Homo sapiens: one gene and its partner. The protein of the gene in region 2 interacts with the protein of the main gene of each other region in a pairwise test. Each region holds a gene or a part of one and is shown on either strand. Other genes may lie near its edges. The genes, in order: DERA and ALDH16A1.

Evidence for each region.
Region 1: the proteins of ALDH16A1 (region 2) and DERA interact in binary tests that used the Homo sapiens proteins (3 or more experiments, as listed by UniProt).

The regions. Positions count from the first base shown.
Region 1 is NC_000012.12:15,950,725-15,966,704, reverse strand, and holds part of DERA (deoxyribose-phosphate aldolase), read right to left. Parts: intron 9,770-15,980; coding exon 9,672-9,769; intron 8,518-9,671; coding exon 8,370-8,517; intron 6,877-8,369; coding exon 6,781-6,876; intron 3,893-6,780; coding exon 3,758-3,892; intron 1-3,757. UniProt on the Homo sapiens protein: Catalyzes a reversible aldol reaction between acetaldehyde and D-glyceraldehyde 3-phosphate to generate 2-deoxy-D-ribose 5-phosphate. Participates in stress granule (SG) assembly.
Region 2 is NC_000019.10:49,448,302-49,456,444, reverse strand, and holds the start of ALDH16A1 (aldehyde dehydrogenase family 16 member A1), read right to left. Parts: upstream 3,221-8,143; 5' UTR 3,114-3,220; coding exon 3,024-3,113; intron 1,532-3,023; exon of another isoform or gene 1,511-1,531; coding exon of another isoform or gene 1,508-1,510; intron 1-1,507. Other genes in the region: PIH1D1 (PIH1 domain-containing protein 1), read left to right, coding at 4,871-4,960, 5,597-5,663, 6,791-6,970.

The DNA of each region.
Region 1 (15,980 bases), on a different chromosome or scaffold from region 2:
CAGGGGTAATCAGAAACAGAAAGGAAGACCTCAGGAATGTAGGCACCAAAGCCACAACAACAAAGCATTACCAGAAGGAAGGAACAGTCTGCTGTGTCATATGTTGCATGGTAATGCTGAATAAACAACTGGGGAGTATGCCCTGGACATAATGAGATGACAGGTCATTAGTATATTAGTTTGAACTTCTCAAGACAAACAAATAAATATAACTCTTTGCAGAATTCTTTTTTTTTTTTTTGAGAGGGAATCTCACTCTGTCCCTCAGGTTGCAGTGCAGTGGCGCAATCTTGGCTCCCTGCAACCTCTGCCTCCCAGGTTCAAGCAATTCGCTCACCTCAGCCTCCAGAGTAGCTGGGATTACAGGCATGTGCCACCATGCCCAACGAATCTTTGTATATTTAGTAGAGATAGGGTTTTGCCATGTTGGCCAGGCTGGTCTCAAACTCCCAACCTCAAGTGAGGAGGACGCCTCACTCCAGAGCGTTGCTGCGGAACCAGAGCTTAGGGCGGCAGCAGAGCAAGAGGTGATGAGGCCTCCCAAAGTGCCTGTTTCAGCCTCCCAAAGTGCTGGGATTACAGGTGTGAGCCACCGCATCGGGCCTTCTTTTCAGAATTTTAGTCATGAAGGGAAGAGAAGAAAGGAGGACGTTGCTGGGGATGAAGGAAAAGGAAAGCCAGCATGTAGGTTCTTTCATAAATGGCTAAGAAAAGCTTGAGTATGTCTAAATGCTTAATGGGAATGAGCTGGCAGAAAGGCTGATGACACGGAAGAAAGAATGCCCAATAGATAGAGCAGGGCTTCTGAAAATGCAGGGGGAGATGAGAGCCACAGCACAGTCGAGGGAAGGAATTTAGGAGGAAGGAGCAAAGGAAGAAGCAAAGAAAAGCAGCCCTGATGCAAGGACCTGGAGGGAGCTCCTGTCTGATGATTTTATTTTCTCTGAGAAGTAGGAGGCAGTTCATATGCTAACAGTGAAGGAGCTTCAAGGAGGGTGGAAAAGTTAGAAATTTCAGGAAAGTGGACATTTTAAATGGTCACTAAGGAGAACCCAGAGAGGAATATCAAACCTCCCCCACCCCCAAACTCCAGTCTCCTCGAATTCATACCCTAAACTGTGGACTCTCACATCCATGAGAAATGGTTAAGACCACTCTGAAGGGCCAGGTTTAAAAAATGGGGCTCTTAATGAGAACACATGGACACAGGGAGGGGAACAACACACAGTGGGGCCTGTTGGGGGAGGGTGGAGGCAGGTAGTGCATTAGGGAAAATAGCTAATGCATGAGGCACTTAATACCTACCTAGGTGATGGGTTGATAGGTGCAGCAAACCACCATGGCACACGTTTACCTATGCAACAAACCTGCACATTCTGCACATGTACCCCAGAACTTAAAAAATAAAATGGGGTTCTTTCTATTGTGCTTTACCAAATATCCTACAAACCTCACTGCACAAGGGAGAGGGCCCTGGATTTAAAACTGCAATTGCTTGATAGACATTTCCATCCACAAATTCCAAGAAATTATTTTATGCTCATATTTTAATAAACAGCTAATATTAAAACATGACACTGAAAAATACAATATGTAATCAAATTGAGAATCAAAATTAAGACAAAATATTGCAGCAAAAAGTCCTAAGTCATTTCAGGTTTCTATTTAGAATTAAATTTCTAGTATTAAATGTTCCTTTTCAATTTGTTTGGGTCAAGAGGTTATTAACACTAGAAAAAGAGTTAATATAAAAGTATGGTCCAGGACAAAGATCTGTCATTACATTTTGCATAAACGCCTGTTATTGGGAAATTATCAGTTCTTAAAAACAACCATTCCTAGTTCATTAAGGGGCAGTCAGCTACATCAAAACCCATCTCCTATTGTATTTTATTTTCCAATTAGTAGCATAATATAAACCATATTTCTATATCCACAACTGCTTAATAAAAGGTGTAAGTTATAATATAAACCCAATTTCTACATCTACAATTGCTTAAGATATAAAGGACATATAGGTTTGTATACAACTAAATCACATAAAGTTTATTGCCAGATTTGTTTTAAATACTACGCTTACTCACTTTTTCATTTTACTCTAGCCTTAAATCTTAGTGAAATCCGTGACTAAAAGCAGATAAGCAAAATTAATATATAGGAACAGAGATATCTATTTAAAATACGCCTTTTCAGAATGACTGTAATTGGCTAAAACACACACATGAACAATCACAAAAAAGGAACACAAAATACAAAAAGATATTTGTGAACTGTCAAGAGTTTAAACCTGGCAAGAATTATAAATGTTGATGAGTATTAATGGGGAACTTGGGGGGCAGTGGGGTGAACGCAATGGAAATGGGAATGTACAGGAAAGTAGTTAATATTCCAAGCTAAAAACTCTATTTTCCAGCTTACTTGCAGCCAAGAATGGCCACGTCACTCAGCTCAGGCCAACGGGCAAAGGTGTAATAAACAAAGGTGTTGTGTGAGACTTGATGAGAAAAGCCTTTCTTTCCTATGGTCTTGGAGATGAGTGTAAGGTGCTGGAGCTTCAGAAGCCATCTCAGACAATGAAGTGCCCTTGACATTAACAGCAGAAGCCACATGCTTTGGAACTGGAATATAAACGTAGCCCGGGTCTCCAAGAACTTTGTGGAGCTGCCACACACCCCTGAAATACCTACCCCTGGACTTTATATAAGAGAATAAATACTGAGGGTTTAAACCACTGACTGAACATTTGCTACTTCATAACCAAAAGCAATTCATAATTGACAATCAATGGAATTAGGCTTCACAAATAGACATAGGCTTTACAGATACAGATGGATAGAAACAGTCACAGGAAAATACCCATGAGAAATAGGCAAGTCCAATAAGCAGGTTAAATAAGAGATAAAATCCTATCTCTTATTTAAACTTTAAAGGAGTGTGGGAATAGCCTCCATAATTAGTATAAAATATGCCATTTATTTGATATATAAAGAGACAATATACTATCCTGGCTTTAACTTGTGATTTCATTAAAAATTTTTGGTTAAACTATTTATTATAATGACTTTTTTGAAAGAGAATTTTACTTTTCTAGCTACCAATGACCTCATCTTTAGTACACAAAATATATTTAAGACAGAGGTAAAATCTATTTGATTCTTTAATATCTGTTTAAAAAAACAAAAGCTTGTTGCTGGAAAGGGCAATGTCTTAGTGTATGCTGACGTGATAGTGAATCATTAATTTCATGATAGTCATCAGAGCTGTGTCTAAGAATGCTAGAAGTAAAAATAAACTTAGTCAACTTAATAATCCCATACCTTTAAAGACTGCAAAAATTAACATAAAAAAGGGAAGTTTCCTCCAATATATTCAAATAAACTTTGCATAAAAGACTTGCCTGGAGTGAAGTATGTATTGAGTAACAAAACAGTATAGAATAGTAGTAACTTTTCCCTTCTGAAGAAAAAGCATGTTGGTAAAATAAAATTGTTTTAAAAGTTATGAATCTATTGCATGGAAGTAACTATTCACCTAAGCACTCAAAAGGATCTGAAAAGTTCATGTAGGTAGGCAACTGCCTAGATTTATGAGGGGCACAAGGATGGGTAATCTTAGCCTGCTTTCTCCTAAACTCACCATTTGATCTACTAACTTGTCACCTAGAACAGTGACCTCTAAAACATACCACATCTTACCTCATCATCTGATTCACCAGGGAAGAATGGTGAAACTCTCTTAGGTAAAAGCATGCACCTACCTTCCCACTGGCCTGTCAGCACCAAGCTTCTGTTAATTACCACGTCGATTTCTGTAGCTCCATCTTCCACAGCCAATCTGATCTCTTCTAATCGTGTCTTCAAATGAGTCTGTCCAGCTGGAAATCCAGCGGCCACTAATAGAGTTAAGAAAGGAAATGAAGAAAGAGGGAAGGAGGGAAGAAAGAAAGTAAGCAAGGGGGGGAGGGGAAAACAAATTTCAATTGGTCAGTAGTAGTTCATCAAAGAATTCCAAACCCCCAAACATCAGCATTTAAAGACCAATGCACTGACACTTAAGAACATCACTTATGCATAAGTGTGAAGAAATTGAATGTTCTCTCATATTAGTGTTAGGACAAATATCATTTTCTGGAAGACCTGAAATTAAGATGCTGCAGAGATGCTCATGAAGGTGGATTAAGTAACCAGCAAAGATGTTTTATCTTCACAGTGATAGCCATAAAATAGTAGTGGTAGCCCTATCTTAATGAACACTAGTTATCTAGCACACTAGTTCTGGGTCCAAATCTTGATCAAGTTAGCTATCTTGATTTACTCATTTACCCTTGATTTATCTTGATTAATTCTCTCATGAACCTCTTTAGCTGTGGTAAACAAACTGTCCTATGTGTTCCTCCCACTGCCTATGTTAAAAACAACCAGCCTGGCAGATGAGCATAAAGAAAAGAGAATGCAGGAGGAAAACACACCTAATTAGTCCACCAAATTGAGGCAGGGGCAGGGTTGGGAAGAGCAGAGCCAAGTGTAAATAAGAGGAAAATGAAAACACAAAACACAACTACACTCTTGAAAAATAGTAACATCTTTTACATGCACATCATTAACTCTCCATCCCTGTTTCTAAAAAAACCTGTCATGTTACCTTGATATTAAATTCCTTGGGGCTGGGCACAGTGGCTCTTGCCTGTAATCCCAACATTTTGGGAGGTCAAGGCTAGCGGATCATCCGAGGTGAAGAGGTTGAGACTAGCCTGGTCAACATGGTGAAACCCCATCTCTACTAAAAGTATAAAAATTAGCCTGGTGTGGTGGTGCACACCTGTAGCCCTAGCTACTTGGGAGGCTGAGGCAGGAGAACTGCTTGAACTCAGGAGGCGGAGGCTGCAGTGAGCCGAGATCGCGCCACTGCACTCCAGCCTGGGTGATAGAGCGAGACTCTGTCTCAAAAAATAAAAATTAAAAAAATTCCTTAGGTCTGTTACCTTAGAGGAAAGCATGTTTCTCTGTTGTTTAAAGCAAAAACTGAACTGACTGAGGCTGATGAAAAATTAAGGTCTATACAAGTGTAGCTGCCAAATACTTCAGGAATCCTCATAAATCAATTCTATATAAATACTGTGCACCATGTTTCTTTTAATATATTCCTAATAAGCTAATGACCTTTATAAACTCCTTTTAAATTTTTACTTATTTTATTTTTTTGTAGAGATCTTTGTTGCCCACACTGGTCTCAAACTTCTGGCTTTAATCAATCCTCTCGCCTGAGCCCCCCCAAAGTGTTGGGATCACAGATGTGAGCCACCATGCCTGGCCTAGACTCCCTTTTTAAAGCATCAGGATATTCCTCTAACATCTCTTAAAACTAGAATCTAATTTTATATCTGTCTATTCATCCATCCATATACACACAGATACACATTTACCAAACTAATGTTTTAAAGACTTTTCTGTCATACCAAGTCCTACCGTGTCTATCTGAAGTCAGTGACTTCTGAATGCACTCTCTCCTTTATCTTCTAGGTTTTGTGTGGCTTTTATCAGGTCCTGCATGTACTGTGACAAGTCTCCCCTAACTCCATTTCACTCCTTTTCTAATTTATCCAGTACCATCAGGTAACTTACTATGCCATGAAGCTGATCACGTCACGCCTCTAACCTTTCAGTGTCTTCCCTATCATCAGAATACAGGCCAAATGCCCCCACATGGCATGGATCCCCTCTGCAATTCTGCCCTGATCTCCCTCTCTAGCTTCAACTCCTGTATCTCCCCCTTTGCCCTGTCTTCAGAGCCCTGCCTTTGTAGTCAACAACAGCAAACCTTTTCCAGTTCCCTGAACATGCTTTGTGCCTTCACACGTGCTAGTGCCTCTGTCTAACATGTGGTTCCCTACCTTATTAACACTGTGAACTCCTCCTCATCCTTTAAGATCCAATGCAATTATCTCCACGACGATGCTTTCTCTTACTTTGGTGTCACCAACCTCTGCAGAATATATCATTCCCTGCTCAGAACCGCAACTACACATTTTGCACATATCGTTGTTTTTTTTTTTTTTTTTTTTTTTTTTTGAGACGGAGTCTTGGTCTATCACCCAAGCTGGAGTGCAGGGGCATGATCTCAGCTCACTGCAACCTCTGCCTCCCAGGTTCAAACGATTCTCCAGCCTCAGCCTCCCAGCAGCTGGGATTACAGGCACCTGCCACCATGCCTGGCTAATTTTTGTATTTTTAGTAGAGATGGGGTTTTGCCATGTTGGCCAGGCTGGTCTCGTACTCCTGACCTCAAGTGATCCACCTGCTTCGGCCTCCCAAAGTGCTGGGATTATAGTTGTGAGCCACCGTCCCCAGCCCGCATATCATTATTATTATATTTTACATATATATGTATAACAGAACATGCATACATGTGTGTGTTAGTATGTATATAGTTATATATATAGTTAATATGTATATATACATATACATATATAGTATGTATATGTGTGTGTGTGTGTGTGTATATATATATATACTATATGTCATGCCTTATGACTTTTTTCTTTACCTGACTATTCCTCCTAAACTGAGTTTCTTTAAGGATAGGAATACAGTTCTATATTGTTGGGAATAAATGTCTTCCACTTACTAAGCAATTAGTACATACTAAAATCATGAATAAATACAACTAATTAAATACATAAACTAATTTAAATCATAGTACAAACCTACATATAATACCCCATTGTATGAAGAACTGGAAACATGTTTAAAAAATAACAACAAAAGCCACAACACATTTTACCTGATGCCACAGGGATATTACAGCCTGCAGCCTTGAGTGCTTTTACAGCATCACACACCCGGGCGGGATAAACACAAACGGCGGCTGTAGTAATGCCTATCAAGAAAAAATAGGAATAGCCAACTTTCAATGAAGTTCAACTCATACAACATGCTTTTAATTATTATTTATATCGCAACACTGGCAAAAATCAAATGAGAAAAAAATAATTCCCCCACAATACTGCAATAAATTAAAAGATTTTTATTTTCCACATTCCCTTCTAGTTCTTGACAATATGGATTATTTTCTTATCGTTAAAGTCATAAAAACAAGTTTGATATACTCATCTTTGAGATTAACATAGTACTGTTTTTTAAAAATGTCTAAATAGTAAATTTGGTGATCATTACTAAATGCAAATATTTCATGTAGATAACAAAATCCATATTTACAGAGCATTCACATAGGACATACCTGAAGAAAGGACAGTTTGAAGAAGGACAGATGAAGACAAATATAAGTACAATTTAGAGGGTGGTACCACAAAAATGACATTTAACTAATCCTATTCCCTCTTTTGCAAGAAATAATAAAATCTGAAACGGAAGCCCTGATTTTAAGAAATAAGTTCATAAATTTTAAAAAATTTAGAATTCAAATAGTCACTATAAAACAAAGCAATATCATAAGACCTTACATCAAGTTGTTACCTTTAAGTGCAATAAATAAGGTGATATTTTTATGGCCAACACGAAATAAACATAATAAATACTTTTCAAAAGCCGTAGAGTTGTTTAGGTTTGTATGTTACCTACAAACCTAAACGTGTTTATTTGGGATAAAAGACCTGCATTGGGCCAATTCAACGTCTCCAGTTGCACTCACAGCAGATAGGCACTCGGGGGCCATGAAGCATACTCCATGGGAAGGAGACCTGGCTCCCAAAACCAGCCCAGCAAGTAACAAGACGTGTAGCCTTGGGAATGCCGCTTAGCCTTCCAGGTCTTTGTTTCTTTATTTAGAAAACAAGGGAATCAATTCTTACAGGTGTCCAACATCTCCAAAATGCTAAGGTTCTAAACTTATGGCAACTCTAGAAAAGTCCTTCTTTTCATGTATACTAAGGCAGTGAATATGACTTTTTTTGAAAGATCTAACCTAATATATAAGCAGGCTATATTTCTCATTTGCACTTTATTTTCAAAAGTATTTCATATACTCACAGAAAATACTTTATGTATGAGATGTGATTATTAAGTAATGAGACTGGCTTTTTCACGTATGGCTAGGGAATCAGAAAGAGTATTTCAGTGTCACTAAACAGAAATTTTCCAAAACTGAAGAACTGAAAAGAAATAAAGTCACTCTCTACCAAGCATTTTAATCCATTGATGGAAAGAACTGACCTCAAAAAAAAAAAAAAAAAAAGACTCAGATTCTCTTCCTGCTGTTTTTCAGAGAAGAATCTGTCTATGTATACACAGCAAGAGTTTCTATCATGGATTCTATCACCGCTATCATTAGCAGCTGTATCTTAAGTCGTCTTTGATTTAGTAATCAGTATTGTAAGCACTAAACACCACATAGATCACACACAACAACATTACCTTTATCATGCATATTTAAAGCTTTTAAGAGATCTTCCCGGATTGGGTATTTGGCTTTATAACAGAGCCTTTGAATGTTGGAAGATGTATCATCACCTGAAAGTGTAGTAAGATCTATAAAGGTAACAGCTTTCAGGAGCCAAGCAGCCTGGTTTAAACAAAAGTGAAAACAAAGTAAATTTAATAAATAAACAAACCAACCAACCTCCAACCCAGGTGGTTAGTAGAGAATCATTAGACAAGTATGGGTGTTAATATCTTATGCCTACACTGTTCAATGGAATATCCTGATACATGATATAAACACAGCTCAAGAGCCACTAACAAGGTGAACACTGCCCAAAATAAAAGGGAGGAAGAGTAGGCTTAAACATTTTTTTTCTCCCACAGATATCCCAAATTGAAACCCCTATTAGCCCATGTCTCCCCACTTCTGACTACTCCATCTCAGCCAAAGGGAGAGCCCATCAGAGCCACCCTGACAAAGAAGAACTCCGAAAGAAGGTTTCTACCTTACATTTTACCTCCCGCTCTGGGATCTGGGATGAGATTATCATTTTTAAAAGTTTCCAAGTTTTTTGGTGTTTTTTCAATTTAATCCAATTCCATTTTTAAAACAATATTCATATTTCACAACTCAGTCTGATGAATTTTATTTTACCTTTTCAACCAGAATATTTCTAAGGATGAGCAAAACGTGAACTATCACTCTCAAGGATTCAATCACAGTATTCTGTCTCACTTGTGAAATGAACTCTGAATTCCCTTTAATCCTACACAGCACGTCTTTGGTTGGGATACACTGAAGAAAATGCTGACCGCAAGTACTCTACGAAACATCATTTTTGGAATTTTGAAAAATGATTTATAGAAAGTAATAGTAAGGTAAATATGATGGTCAAGAAAGGTCAACTCTTATACCTAAGGGCCTCAACAGTGGACACATCAAGTTTAGATGTTAGGGCTTTAAAATTAAAACAGAAGACAACCAAAGAAGGCATGTCTAAAAAACTGAATAAATGTGTTGAGAAAATATGCCATTTAATTCACTCATGAATAAAGATGCCTCAAATTCATTTGCGGTTTTGCCACTCAAGAGTGATAAGATTTTAACTTGTTTGGATAAATGTGTTATCTTTCTCCAACCCATCATCATCATATATGAATTATTAAAATAAGTCATGGACAGCTGCAATCTTTTAAGTTTAGATGCATCTTGAGTGAAATTCAATATTGTGGCCTTGAGGGAAGAGACCATGCATTGTAAAATACAGGCACAGAATGCTCAAGAAGAACCCTTACCTGCCACTCCTTTTTCACGGTTCTGCGAGCCTGGATTTGTTCCGCACGCCTCAGAACTGCCGGGTGATTCACTTGTATTTTGGAGATCCAGCTAAGGTCTAAAACAGACAGAAAAACACTTTCTGAAACCTAAAGTTTCATTAAATATAGTCACCTATTTTTACATGGTCCTTGAAAGGATACATTTATCATTTGACATCAACCTTTTTTTAAAGCTTATATTTCTTTTTTGTACAACTATAAATAAACAACCTTATTGATGGAAGACCAGTCAACAAAAGGCATACTTCATGCAAAATCACTCCATTACTTTCAAAGGCAAAAACCACAATTGCTTCTGTACCAGCCTATACATTTGGAACTGGAAGAACCTGTATTGATTCATCACACAGACATGTCTAACGACGTGGGAAATGTGTGTTACCCATGCCACGTACCTCACCTCTGAGAGCAAAGACTTACTGGTGAGTGTCCAGCCCAGGAGAGCAAATGATTAACAAATCTTAAGTGAACTAATGGTGGGGCTTACAGAATCTGTGCTCACTACCCGCTTACTGGCAAGATTAATACCTACTGCATGCTGACAGGATACAGCCCATTCTTTCTTCAAAGAAAAATTTTTCAAAATGTATTAGAAATAACAACATTGACTGATATAACAGAAGTTAGAAAAAAAGAAAAAACAAATTATTTAAAGTTTCAGGAGCTATCTCTGTTGCTTTTGTTCTGAAATGCTCTCTCCTACCTTGATCTACTCTCTCTTCTCTTCCAGTTAACTGTAATTTCTACCTTCAGACCTAGTCTAAATATTAGCTGTTGTGAAAACACTGTCAGCTCCCCAGACAGAGCTAACATTTGGATAGATCTCTACCACAGAACTTGTAATCAATTCATCAAGGATTCCTGGTGAAACCATTCGTTGTACTTAGTACATTGTCAGCCATGATGTTACTCATCTTTGGGTGTCTAACATCCAACAGTGTTTGGTACACATATTTCAACTTCATCCACCAATATCCTATAAACATAGGTGGCCTCACGGTAAATCGGACATGAACATTATTTACCTTCTATAACTAACCTCACTTCTATATCTCTCCAGCAATTCCATGTTTTTAAAAGAGCCTTAAAAGAGTACTGTGGAAAAAAAGTTATCCATTAGAAAAAATGCACTAATTACAAAACTCTTTATAATGCAATGAGGAAAACTGCTAATCACATACTGTATCATGTAACAATACAAATTGAAGTATTTGCATCTAAACTAATGTTTACAGATGACATTCTTTCTCTCACTCATTTTCATTTCATTCTTCTTAAAAGTATCAGTATTAAAGGTATAGAGATTGCAAGGTGGACTCTGAGTGATTAATAATGATCTTATTTAAATTTCACTGAAGAAGGAAGAGAGTTTGGGTGCTTCTTTTTCTCTCTAATTATTTTGTTAGCTGAAATCATTTAACAAACCAGATTTTTAACATTTCAATCCATCTGCTCCTGCTCCTCAAAGATATTGTATGTTTTCTTGCTTGTTTGCTGAGCCAACTTCACAGAGAAAATGGGAGTCTGGGGTCAGGCCGATGAAATCTGCCTCTGCTTTCCCACTCAAGGGCTGTTTTTGTTCTAGCAGAGCCCGAGAAAATCAGACCAGACACTCTAGACTTCGTCCCAATTTATCTAAGACCTGTAAGAAACACCCCCTACTCAAACGCAGGGGAGCCTCTTTTTTTTTTTTTTCAGACACAGTCTCTCTGTCGCCCAGGCTGGAATGCAGTGGTACGATCTTGGCTCACTGCAACCTCCACCTCCCGGGTTCAAACGAACTCATGCCTCAGCCTCCCAAGGAGCCAGGGCTACAGGCGTGCGCCACCACGCCAGGCTAATTTTTGTATTTTTAATAGAGACAGGGTTTCACCATGTTGGCCAGGCTGGTATCGAACTCCCGACCTCAAGTGATCTACCTGCCTCGCCCTCCTAAAGTGCTGGGATTACAGGCATGAGCCACTGCACCCAGCCCTAAGAGGCTTTTTTTTTTTCTCCTCAGATGATTGATAATGCTGATTTGGTTCATGGTAAAGACTGTTTCAAGCAGATATAGAAAAATGAGTGAAGAGTATGTGAACTCCAAGACTCACTGCCAACTAATTGTTGACCGTGATCAAAAAGAGGTAGGCCTATTACTCAGTGGGGCAAGGCTTTGACAGGCTGTCCTTTATCGGTCACAGGACACCCCTGAAGTCCTTCCCATTCTCTACTCCCAACGCACCACTACCACTACTGTCGCCACTGGAAACACTGGCACCACTGTTGGAGAGGGGTCTCAGGCAAACACAAGCCTCTTCCTTCACCATCTGGCTCCTTCCTCATTCTCAAGCCCCAGCTCCTCCCTCACTGCTCCTCTGCCTCTGTGGTGCAGCCTTCCTAAACTACTGGCAGTTCCCTGACACATTATGCCAGGCTGTCTCTGGATCTGTGCATGCTGCAAGCTCCTTCTACCAAGAATGCCCTCCCTGCTTTGCGAACAGTGAACTGCTGCTCATCCTTTAAGAGTCGATTCAAATGTCACCTTCTCTGGGAGCCTTCCCTGAACCTCACAGGTTGAGACATCCCTTTGCTTCTTCGTGCTTCCATGAAACTCTGCATTCCACCTTTAGTACATCCCCTTCACTCAGAATGCCACTGATGTGTCCAAATGTTTATGTCCCCAAAAGATTTTTTAAAACTCCAAGCGAAGGACCTGACGCACGGGTGGCATACGATAAATAAGTCGAGTGGTTCCCAAAGACCAGAAAGGATTTAATTCTGGGCAATGTCTTTCTCCACTGCTTCAGACTAGAAAGGGCTTTTGGATCTCTACAAGAAAATATGGGACTGAGGTATGAATGGGATGCCTGGGAACTTTCCCCTTAAAAACCAATTTTGAGTACACCAAAGGTTAGAACTCACAAGGTCTGCTCTTGCACTTCTCAGAAACCTCTTGCCAGAGGTCCCTGCAAACCATCTACTGGAGAATGTAATAGGATTTCTTCTCTCACAGTATCAGCCTTGACTGCTAAAAATATCATTAGCGGTCATAAAATTATCCAGCCCCATATTTAATGTAGCCACAAAATTTGCCTCTGTGACCTCCCATGGCAATGAATTATGTAAGTGACTATCTCGTTTTATTAGCACTTAATTTGCTACTCTTTAATTTCATCAAATAACCCATGTTCTCCTATTATGGGGTCTGGGGAAAAGAAAGGACTGATTGGCCTTTGTTATGTCCTCCATAATTTTTAATATTTTATTCAAGTACCCTTTAGCGTCTCCTTTCCAGGAGAAGTGATTCTAATGCACATAATCTCATCAGGACCAAAGAATCTTCTTATGGGGCCAAGAGGGGTTTTAAGTACACATGCCTTTGGGGAGAACAGATATGAAACCATAATTGGAAGGCAATGATATCTTCTCTTAAAATTCTCCAATGAAAAAAGTCCCACTATTTACCTTAATATGTCATTTTGGTGGTTTTTAGGCCCTTGTGTTGGTTATAAATTTGTCCTCAAATACTCTTCTCACAATTTATTATTATTATTATTTCTGGTTCAAGTCGTAGTGGAGATGGAGGTCATTTTCCCTGCAACTTTACTTTCTAGACTTTCCATCATTTTCATTTGTGTTTCTGCAGAAGTTCCTGTATTTTTCACAGTATTCCTAAAGCATGTAACACCAAATGATAACCCTACAAAAGGAGGCGCTTTTTCTATTTTGATTTTAACTTTGTTCCTCATACACAAAAATAAAAACTTACCACACTGGCTGGATAAAAAGTCAAGTTCAGAGGAAGGGTAGGTCACAGTAGGCTTATCCAGTTGGCTAAAACAACCCTAATGGATAAGTGGAGATTTCTGATTCACCGTAAAGCATTGTTTCTCAGTCTAGAGACATTTTTGGTCACCACAGATGGGGTAGGGGGATTCTAGAGGAGAAGGTGCCACTTGTATCTAGTGGGTAGAGGCCAAGGATACTGCTCAGTATCCTACAAGGCACCCACAACTTAGAATTATGTGGTCCCAAACTTCAACAGTGCCAAAGCTGAGAAACCCTGCCCAAAAAACTGGGCAGGATGCAGGAAAAATAAACCGGAAGCACTGCAAGTTTGTGGGGCTGTCAGAAGCAAAAGCAGGTTGGCTAAATGTGACTGAATGTGGCTTGTTTGACTGACTATGGCTTACTTGTAAAGTGCTGTAAGCACCAGGCTGAGTGTAGACATGCGCTGTCCAATCAGGAGCCACACACTTGTGCCTACCTGAGCCCTTGAAATGTGGATAGTCCAAATCGAAATGTGCTTTAAGTGTAAAATACATAGATTTCAAAGATTCAGTACAAAAAGAAGGGTGTAAAATATCTAATTACGTTTTAACATTGATTTCACAATGAAATTATAATATTTGGGGTACACTTGGCTAAGTAAAATGCTATTAAAATATTTTCACCTGTTCCTTTTTATTTTTTTTATAATGTGTACACTTGAAAATTTAAAATGACTCCATGTCTCACATTATGTTTCTATTGGCTCTAGGCTCTAGTCTAGACTTTATGATACAGGTGACCAGAAGTCAGAGAAGATCTCCAAACAGGGCTGTAACAGAATTAAAGGAGTATTTTAAAAAAGTAATCAGTACACAGAATATGTCCCATGGAAATACGTACATAAGTTTGCAAATGCAAACATGAAAACGTATGTGTGGCAGCACTGTTGGAAATGACACCAAGATCCATGTCCAGTTCAATAATATATAGCAAATCCAAAAAACAGAATACAATTCAGCCATTAAAAAGAATGAAGTACAGGCCAGGTGCAGTGGCTCACGCCTGTAATCCCAGCACTTTGGGAGGCCGAGGCAGGCGGATCACGAGGTCAGGAGTTCGAGACCAGCCTGGTCAATATGGTGAAACCCTGTCTCCACTAAAAGCACAAAAATTAGCTGGGCATGGTGGTGCAAGCCTGTAGTCTCAGTAGTCAGGGGACTGAGGCAGAAGAATCGCTTGAACCTGGGAGGCGGAGGTTGCAGTGAGCTGAGATTGCGCCACTGTACTCTAGCCTGGGCAACAGAGCAAGACTCCGTCTCAAAAAAAAGAAAAAAAAAAAGAACGAGGTACATCAGTAAGTACTGTTGTAGAAAACTGATTATGATACATTACTCAGTAAAAATAAGAAATATGCACAGCAGTGTGCTTTTTAAAATAAAACTGTTAATAAAAACAAAAAGAACACAAAACATGTATCTGTTGGTGTATGTGCAAAGAAAATAAACTATATGCCAAATTGATAGAAGTGTTTTTCTTCAGAGGTAAGATTATATTCCTACTTTCTCACGTTATATATTCCCCTAATATTTAAACATTCTTACAAAGAGCATGCATTATCTTATTGAGCAGGAAATATAACACATAATAATACTTGACTCTTGAATTAAGAGGAACTGCCAGGCAGCAGTGTGAAGGACAGGTAGAATGAAAGGCAGACTACAGTAGGTAAACCAGTAAGGCAGCTGTCTGTGGTCCAGGCACCAGCATTATACAACACCTACCTGGGGCATTTTCACAGCTCTAAACCCTTCGTGATCAATCTTTGGCCACTGAGCTATTCCAGAAAGCCAGCCTGATACAGCTACACAATGTCAGGCAGAAATGATGATGTCAGAATGCCCTGTTTCTGTTCCCATAGAAAAGATCACCAAAATCTTCACCACAGGCCCCCAGGTAGAAACTGATAATTATATTGCTCCTACATGATGCCAACATTACAAAGGGATGAGATGGGCCCACACTCTACTTAGAGCCTGCTCTGGCCCACCCATAGCTGTGCTCCTACCCATGGGCAGGGGTCTGTGGGGCCAAGGGCACAGACTGTCCCTGGGCCAACATTCCCCTCTAGTCCATGCTCAAGGTACACAGGACCCAGAATTCCTAGATCAAATGGCTCCAGCCTTGTTTACAGAATCTGCAGGGATCTCTACCCAAAGTCAAGACTTACACAAGATACAAGACAGACAAGGGACAGAAAACCTCCTGGAGAGTTTGATAAATGCAAGTCTGTCTATGAATACCATTCATTCATTCAACTAATATCAAAGGGCTATCCAAAATGGTGCCAGACACCACTGGAGGCTCTAGAGAGTGAGCAGTGCTGAAAAAACAAAATCCTTATTCTCATAGGCCTTTCCTAATAAGAGATAAACACATAAATATCTATTAACTATATTATACATCTGAGCTACAATGAAAAGTTATATAGGGTAAGAAAATGGAGAATGTAGGATG
Region 2 (8,143 bases):
ACTGAATGCTAGCCTGGGCGACAGAGTAAGATCCTGTCTCAAACAAACAAACAAAAAACAAAAAGAATGACTTAATGTTAAGTGTGGTAACAGACCATGGTAGTTTTGTAACAAAATGAGCCCTTATCTGTTAGAAGAAAGGATTCAAATATTTATAGGAAAATACTGTGACATCCAGGATTTGTTTAAATTACTCCAAAGAAAATACAGAAGGAAACAGCGCTGGGATAAATGTTGATGATGGTTGAGGCACAGTGATGGGTAAACAGGAGTTCAAAATAAATGCTAATTATTCTGTGCAAGTTGGAAAGCTTCCCCCCAAAAGAAAAACAAAATTCCAAAAGAATGTCCAGAGGGTTCCAGGAGGCCTGAGAAGAGGGCCTGGATGAGAAGAGGAGCTTAACGATTCATGGAAAAGACAGGAGCTATTGGTCCCAGATGACTTTTGTCAGGGAAGTTGAGCCAAATGTTGACACATTTTGGAATTTTATTTTCAAGAGGACCTCCCGGATGTTTACATGGAATCAATTGTCCAGCATTTCACATAAAAAAAAAATAAAGTTCACGCCAAAGAAAACATGTTTGTTGGTTGAGTCTGGCCCAGAGACTGTACGGTTGAGAACTTTGCTGGTGTAGGCAAGACCACGGGTCTGAAATGCAAGGACTCAAGTCCAAGTCTCAACTTCACTTTTTATGTTTTATTTTTATATTAATAGAGATAGGGCCTCACCATGTTGCCCAGGCTGGTCTCAAACTCCTAGGTGCGAGTGATCCTCCTGCCTCGGTCTCCCAAACTGCTGGGATTACAGGTGTGAGCCACTTGCCTGGCCTCAACTTCTTTTTTTTTCAGGGGGGACAGGGTCTTATTCTGTCACCCAGGCTGGAGTTCAGTGGTATGATCACTGCACCTCCCAGGCTCAGGTGATCCTCCCACCTCAGCCTCCCGGGTAGCTGGGACTACAGGTGTGTGCTGCCATCCTCGGCTAATCTTTTGTTTTCTGTTTCCTTTTTTTTTTTTTTTTTTTTTTGAGATGGAGTTTTGCTCTTGTTGCCCAGGCTGGAGTGCAGTGGCGTGGTCTCGGCTCACTGCAATCTCCACCTCCTGGGTTCAAGCGATTCTCCTGCCCCAGCCTCCCAAGTAGCTGGGATTACAGGTGCCTGCCACCACGCCCAGCTAATTTTTTGTATTTTTAGTAGAGATGGGTTTCACCATCTTGGCCAGGCTGGTCTCGATCTCCTGACCTCATGATCCGCCCGCCTCGGCCTCCCAAAGCGCTGGGATTACAGGTGTGAACCACTGCGCCCAGCCATTTTTGTATTTTTTTTGGAGACAGCGTCTTGCTCCGTTGCCCAGGCTGGAGTGCAGTGGTGCAATCTCAGCTTACTGCAACCTCTGCCTCCTGGATTCAAGCAATTCTCCCACCTCAGCCTCCCAAGTAGCTAGGATTACAGGCAAACACCACCACGCTCAGGTAATTTTTGTATTTTAGTAGAGATGGGGTTTCACCATGTTGGCCAGGCTGGTCTCGAACTCCTGACCTCAGGTGATCCGCCCACCTAGGACTCCCAAAGTGCTGGGATTACAAGTCTGAGCCACCACGCCTGGCCCAATGTTTTGTATTTTAGTAGAGACGAGGTTTCACTATGTTGCCCAGGCTGGTCTCGAATTCCTGAGCTCAGGCGATCTGCCCGTCTTGGCCTCCCCAAGTTCTAGGCTGTGCCAGGGTTCTGATCCAGTTCCTTCCACTTGGATCATTGCTCTGGCCTCCTGCCCTCCCCCTCAAAGAAGCCTAAGCTCCTTTCGCCTGGGTGCTGGGGGACCCTGGGGGATCATGAGAGCCCCGTGAAGGAATTCTGAGAGTGCCTGGGGAAACGACAGAAAGTTTGAGGTGCCCTACTCATTTGCAGGAACCCCACGAGGGTTCTGGGGGCCTCTGAGGGGTCATGGGAGTCCTAGGGAGGTTCTGAGGACCCCCAGGGGATCATGGGACCCTCACGAGGACTTCAGGGGTTCCTGAACAATCATGGGAACCCTATGGGACATTCTGAGAGCTAGAGAGATCATAGGAGCCCCGTGAGGGTATTGTGAGGGGCCATAAGTAATTACAGGAAGTCCTGATGTGGCTGGGTGCAGTAGCTCACGCCTGTAATCCCAGCACTTTGGGAAGTCGAGGTGGGTGGATCACTTGAGGCCAGGAGTTCGAGACCAGCCTGGCCAACATGCTGAAACCTTGTCTCTAGAAAAAGTACAAATATTAGCTGAGAGTGGTGGCGCGCGTCTCTGGTCCCAGTTACTTGGGGGGCTGAGGTGAGAGGATGGCTTGAGCCCAGGAGGTTGAGGCTGCAGTGGTGTGATAGCGCCAGTGCACTTCAGTTTGGGCGACAGAGTGAGACCCTGGCTCAAAAAAAAAAACAAAAAAAAAACCCAACCCAAACCGGAAGTCCTGATGTATTCTAGGCTCCTGAGAGTTCCGATGAGGTCACATGAACCCCACGAGTATTGAGGGGTCCTATGGGATCACGGGGGCTCCATGGAAGTTCTGAAGGTCTCTGGGTAATCAAAGGGATGAAGGGAGTCCCTCAGGAGGTCTGGGGTGCTCTGGAGGCCCATGGAAGCCATAGGATGTTTTGAAGAGTCGTGGAAAGACAATGGGGGTTGTGGGTCACTGGAGCCTCACAGGAATCCTAAGGGGTCTGGTGGGTGGCGTCAGGTTCTGAGGGGACCCTGAGGAATCACGAGAGCGTCTAGAGGAGTTCAGGAAAACCGCGGAAACACTACGAGGAGTTCAGGATCAAGGGGCAAGAGAACCAGTGGGGAAGACCGGAACAGACTAAAAGGCTGCCACCGCCAAGGCTCAAGGGAGCGTCCTACAGGGCGCGATCCTATTGGGCGGCGGGAATCACGGGGACTAAGAGAGGCGGAGCGGCTGAGCTACCGCAGTGGATGACGGGACTCCCCGCGAAAAACCGGGCGCCCAGGCCTGGGGAACGCAGCGAGCAGCGCCGGCCGGGCAGACTCTCACCAGTGCGCATGCGTGGCTCTCCGGCACCGGTCCGTACTCCAGCGAGGTGAAGATCTCGCGGGCGCGGGGCCCTGCACGCGTCGCAGCCATCGCCTACCCCGAACGCTTTCCGCGAAGACTGCGGGGCGCTCTGTGTTAAGGGGAACCTTGAGGTCCGAAGAGCGACACCTCCGGTTCCAGCCCAAAGGGGCGGGGCTAATGGGAATGGGGTGGGGCTACAAGATACAGAGAGCAGCCACGCCCACACTTTTTCCTTAGGACCCGATGGCCCCGCCTACGTCCCCCACGGGGAAGCGTATTTAGGAGCATGCGCACTGCTTAAAACGGGGAGGAAGGGGAGACGGCGATGTGGGTACTTTGCGAATAGTTAGGAGGGCTCCGGATTTATGAGGATCGGCGTGGCCGGGCACGATGGCTCTTGGCTGTAATCCCAGCACTTCGGGAGGCCGAGGCGGGCGGATCACCTAAGGTCGGGAGTTCGAGACCAGCCTGACCAATTTGGTGAAACCCCGTCTCTACTAAAAATACAAGCATTAGCCGAGCTGTGGTGGTGCGCGCCTGTAATCTCAGCTACTCAAGAGGCTGAGGCGGGAGAATCACTTGAACCCAGAAGGTGTACGTTTCAGTGAGCCGAGATCGCGCCACTGCACTCCAGCCTGGGTGGCAAAGGGAGACTGTGTCTAAAAAAAAAATAGTAATAAAAAAAAAGGGTCGTCCTATTGATGCGTCTTCCCAGTGCCTTGTTTTATAGTAGCAGGAAGTGCAGGTTTTGTTTTACCTTTTATTTTCTTGAGACAGGGTCTCCCTCTGTCGCCCAGGGCTGGAGTGCAGTGGTCCGATCACGGCTTACTGTCGCCTCGACTTTTCAGGTTTAAACATTACTCCTGCGTCAGCCTGCACAGTAGCTGGGACTACAGGCAGGTGCCATCAAGCCTGGCTAATTTTTTTTTTTTTTTTTTTTTTGGTAGAGACAGGATCTTGCTATGTTGCTCAGGCTGGTCTCGAACTCCTGGGCTCAAGCGATCCTCCTACCTCGGCCTCCCAGCCTCAAAGTGCAGCTTTTCTAATTATATTGACTAGAGGTCTAGATCTAGATCTAGACCTGGCGGGTCTAGATCTGGACGTATTAGGATCTAGAGCTGGCAGGAAGTGATAATTCAAAGATAAAAAGGGTACCTTTTAGGATGGACATTGAGATTAAGGTTTGGAAAATGCAACCTTCACTGCAAAGTAAGGGGGCCAGTTTTGGTTGTGGAAAGAGTGGAAGTCTGGCGCTTTTTTTTTTTTTTTAAGAGATGGGGTGTGGGACGTTATCTCATTGTATTGCCCAAGCTGGTTTCGAACTCCTGGCCTCAAGCGATCCTCTTGCCCTGGCCTTCCAAAGTGCTGGGACTACCGGTAGGAGCCACAGCGCCCAGCCGGAAGTGTGGCTTTCATAGATACAGGAAGTGTGGCACTCAGGGATCCGCCTTGGGGTTTATTTTTGATTGATGCGAGGGGCGTGGCTTGTCGATAACGCGATACCAGCTTGTGAATGAACACTGGGGTACTCGGAAGTGTGGCATACTCCAGTCCTGTGTTTACCGATAGACCGGAAGTGTGGCTTCGTTTACAGTTCGGCACGTAGGACGGAGGGTAGTGCGTCTAGAGACACATATTCCCCACGGATTTGACGATGGTGTTCGGTCTTGAATGGAAATGTAGTCTTAGGCCAGTCTTAGGTTTTTGAACAGGATAGTAGGTATCCGGAGTCGATTGAGGGCCAGAGCAGGCACTGGGGTTCGGATCCTGGGCAAAGTTTCCCACGTTGAGGGTCTCGAGGACGCCTAGATCTCTTTCCCAGGGCCATGGCGAACCCGAAGCTGCTGGGAATGGGGCTAAGCGAGGCGGAGGCGATCGGTGCTGATTCGGCGCGATTTGAGGAGCTGCTGCTGCAGGTGCAGTGACCGGACCCCTGGATCCTTGAGTATTCGGGGATTTTGGCGGGGTGCTCAAAGATGGGACTGCAGTTCCCAGAATGCACTAAGGCGGGAACCAGGCCTCGGGGAATTGAGGTTAATGGGCTTCAAGTTTGCTAAGAAATGGGAGTGGGGGGCCGGGCGCGGTGGCTCACACCTGTAATCCCACCACTTTGGGAGGCCGAGGCGGGCGGATCACGAGGTCAGGAGATCGAGACCATCCTGGCTAACACGGTGAAACCCCGTCTCTACTAAAAATACAAAAAATTAGCCGGGCGTGGTGGCGGGCACCTGTAGTCCTAGCTACTGGAGAGGCTGAGGCAGGAGAATGGCGTGAACCCGGGAGGCGAAGCTTGCAATGAGCCGAGACCTCGGCACTGCACTCCAGCCTGGGCGACAGAGTGAGACTCCGTCTCCAAAAAAAAAAAAAAAAAAAAAGAAATGGGAATGGGGTTGGGGTTGTTCTTCTAGTTCTCAAAGGAGAAAGGGGACCTAAACCGTCTAATTTCTCGCGTTATCCACAGCTCTCATGCATAAGAATTGCTCCATTTGAGGAACAAATGAGGGGTCTGATGGCACAGACTCCGAGCCTGGAGGTAGTTTTCCTTTATACAGGCCTCGAAGGAGCTCCAGCAAGCCCAGACAACCAGACCAGAATCGACACAAATCCAGCCTCAGCCTGGTGAGAAAGGACACCGGAGAGAGAGGGACAGGAGACCCAGGGAGAGGACAGAGAGAGGAGGAAGGAAAGAGACACGAAAATAAAGGCCTAGGGTGGGGGTGGGGTGAGCAGACACCCACAGAGATCATCCTAGGACAGAAAGGAGTTGGAGGACAGAGTAGGAGTAGGTAGGGGGCCAGAGAATCAGAGATAGGAAGAGGCCAGGTGCGGTGGCACGTGCCTGTAGTCCCAGCTACTGGGGAGGCTGAGACAGGAGAATTGCTGGAACCCAAGAGGCAGAAGTTGCAGTGGGTGGAGATCGCACCACTGTACTGCAGCCTGGGTGACAGAGCGAGACTCTGTCTCAAAAACAAAACGAAACAAACAACAACAACAAAGATAGGAAGAGAGGCTGGGCACAGTGGCTCACATCTGTAATTCCATCACTTTGGGAGGCCGAGGTGGAAGGATTGCTTGAGGCCAGGCATTCAAGACCAGCCTGTGCAACATAGTGAGACCTCATCTCTACTAAAAATAAACAAAATTAGCTGGACTTGGTGGGTGCGTGCCTGTAGTCATAGCTACTCACGAGGCTGAGGTGGGAGGCTCACTTGAGCCAGGTGGAAGAGACTGCGGTGAGCCAAGATCGTACCACTGCACTCCAACCTGGGTGACACAGTGAGACCCTGTCTCAAAAAACAAACAAGGAGAAAACAAAGAAGAGAGGGGGCCGGGAGCCCAGCACTTTGGGAGGCCAAGGCGGGAGGATCACCTGAGGGCAGGAGTTTGAGATCAGCCTGGCCAACATGGTGAAACTCCATCTCTACTAAAAATACGAAAATTAGCCGGGCGTGGTGGTGGGCGCCTATAATCCCAGCTACTTGGGAGGCTGAGGCATGAGAATTGCTTGAACCTGGGAGGTGGAGGTTGCAGTGAGCCGAGATCACGCCACTGCACTCCAGCCTGGGTGACAGAGTGAGAGTCTGTCTCAAAAAAAAAAAAAAAAAAGAGAAGTGAGGGATCTCGGGTGGGGAGTGGAACAAAAAAGGGGGACAGGGCAAAAGGAAAAGAGACAGAGCCTGGAGACAATGGATGGGGACTGGGACTTGTGCAGAAAAGGATTGTCATGACTAACCCACTCCCACCAGGTTTCTGCATAAAGACCAACTCCTCGGAAGGGAAGGTTTTCATCAACATCTGCCACTCCCCCTCTATCCCTCCTCCCGCCGACGTGACCGAGGAGGAGCTGCTTCAGATGCTAGAGGAGGACCAAGCTGGGTTTCGCATCCCCATGAGTCTGGGAGAGCCTCATGCAGAACTGGATGCAAGTCAGTGCCCTCAGAGGACCCAGGAGTCTGGCCCGCTAGGCCCCTTCTTCCCTAGAACCCAAGAATCCTGGGCCCAGGACCCTCCTCCCTCAGCTCCTGGAGATCTGGCCCCTCGATCTGATTCTTTTCCCTATGGTAGATCTCTAGTGCCCTGGACATCCCACACCCGGGCAGTCCTGGTTCTGCCACCTGGCCAGGCTGGCACTTTTCCATGCCCCACTCCAGGGCCGGGAGGCCTGGGCAGAGTGCTCTTCGTGCATTAGCGGATCTCCTGGCTTTAGTCCTGAGCCTGCTGTCTCCTTCTTTTTTCTTTCTTTCTTTTTTTTTTTCTTGTGATGGAGTTTCGCTCTTGTTGCCCAGGTTCAGACGATTCTCCTGTCTCAGGCTCCCAAGCAGCTGGGATTACAGGTGTGCTCCACCACACCCAGCTAATTTTTGTATTTTTAATAGAGACGGGGTTTCGCCACGTTGGCCTGGCTGGTCTCAGACTCCTGACCTCAGGTGATCCACCGCCTCAGCCTCCGAAAGTGCTGGGATTACAGGTGTGAGCCACTGCACCCAGCCTGCGGCTCTCTCTTTCATCCTGTTTTCTCCTCTGCCCTTCTCCCTTTCTCCATCTCTGTCTTGCCTCACCTCTGTCCCTGTTTCTGCCTCTATATCCTTTTTTCAATATGTCTCTTGAAGCTTTCTGGGACCAAGCTCTAGGCAGTGCCCCGGGGAATAAGGACCTATGAAATGCACATTCCACGTTCCAGAAACTCGCTGTCATGGGTGGGGCTCAAGGAGATGGATGCAGTATCAATAGGGTGTGATTCACGCTGCTTTGGAGGGGGGCACCCAGCACAGCCTTGAGAGGGCTCGTCACCCACATGAAGGGGTCAGGGAAGGCTTCCTGGAGGAGGGGGTGTGGGATAAGATTTGAAGGAACAGGAGGAGTTCAGCAGGCAGACAGAAGAAGGTTCTAGGTAGAGCGGCCCAGAGCTGGGAGAGAATGATTGGATTGGATCAGCCAGTAATGGAGAGTGACTGAAAGAAATTCAGTGGGCCGAGGTTGCTAGAAGAATGAGGTCTTCTCCAGAGGTGGGAGGGGCAGACCACATAGGGTCTCCAACGCCAGGCTTGTGGGGCTCAGACCTTCACTTGGGAGCACTGGGGAGCCAGAGAAGAGCTGTG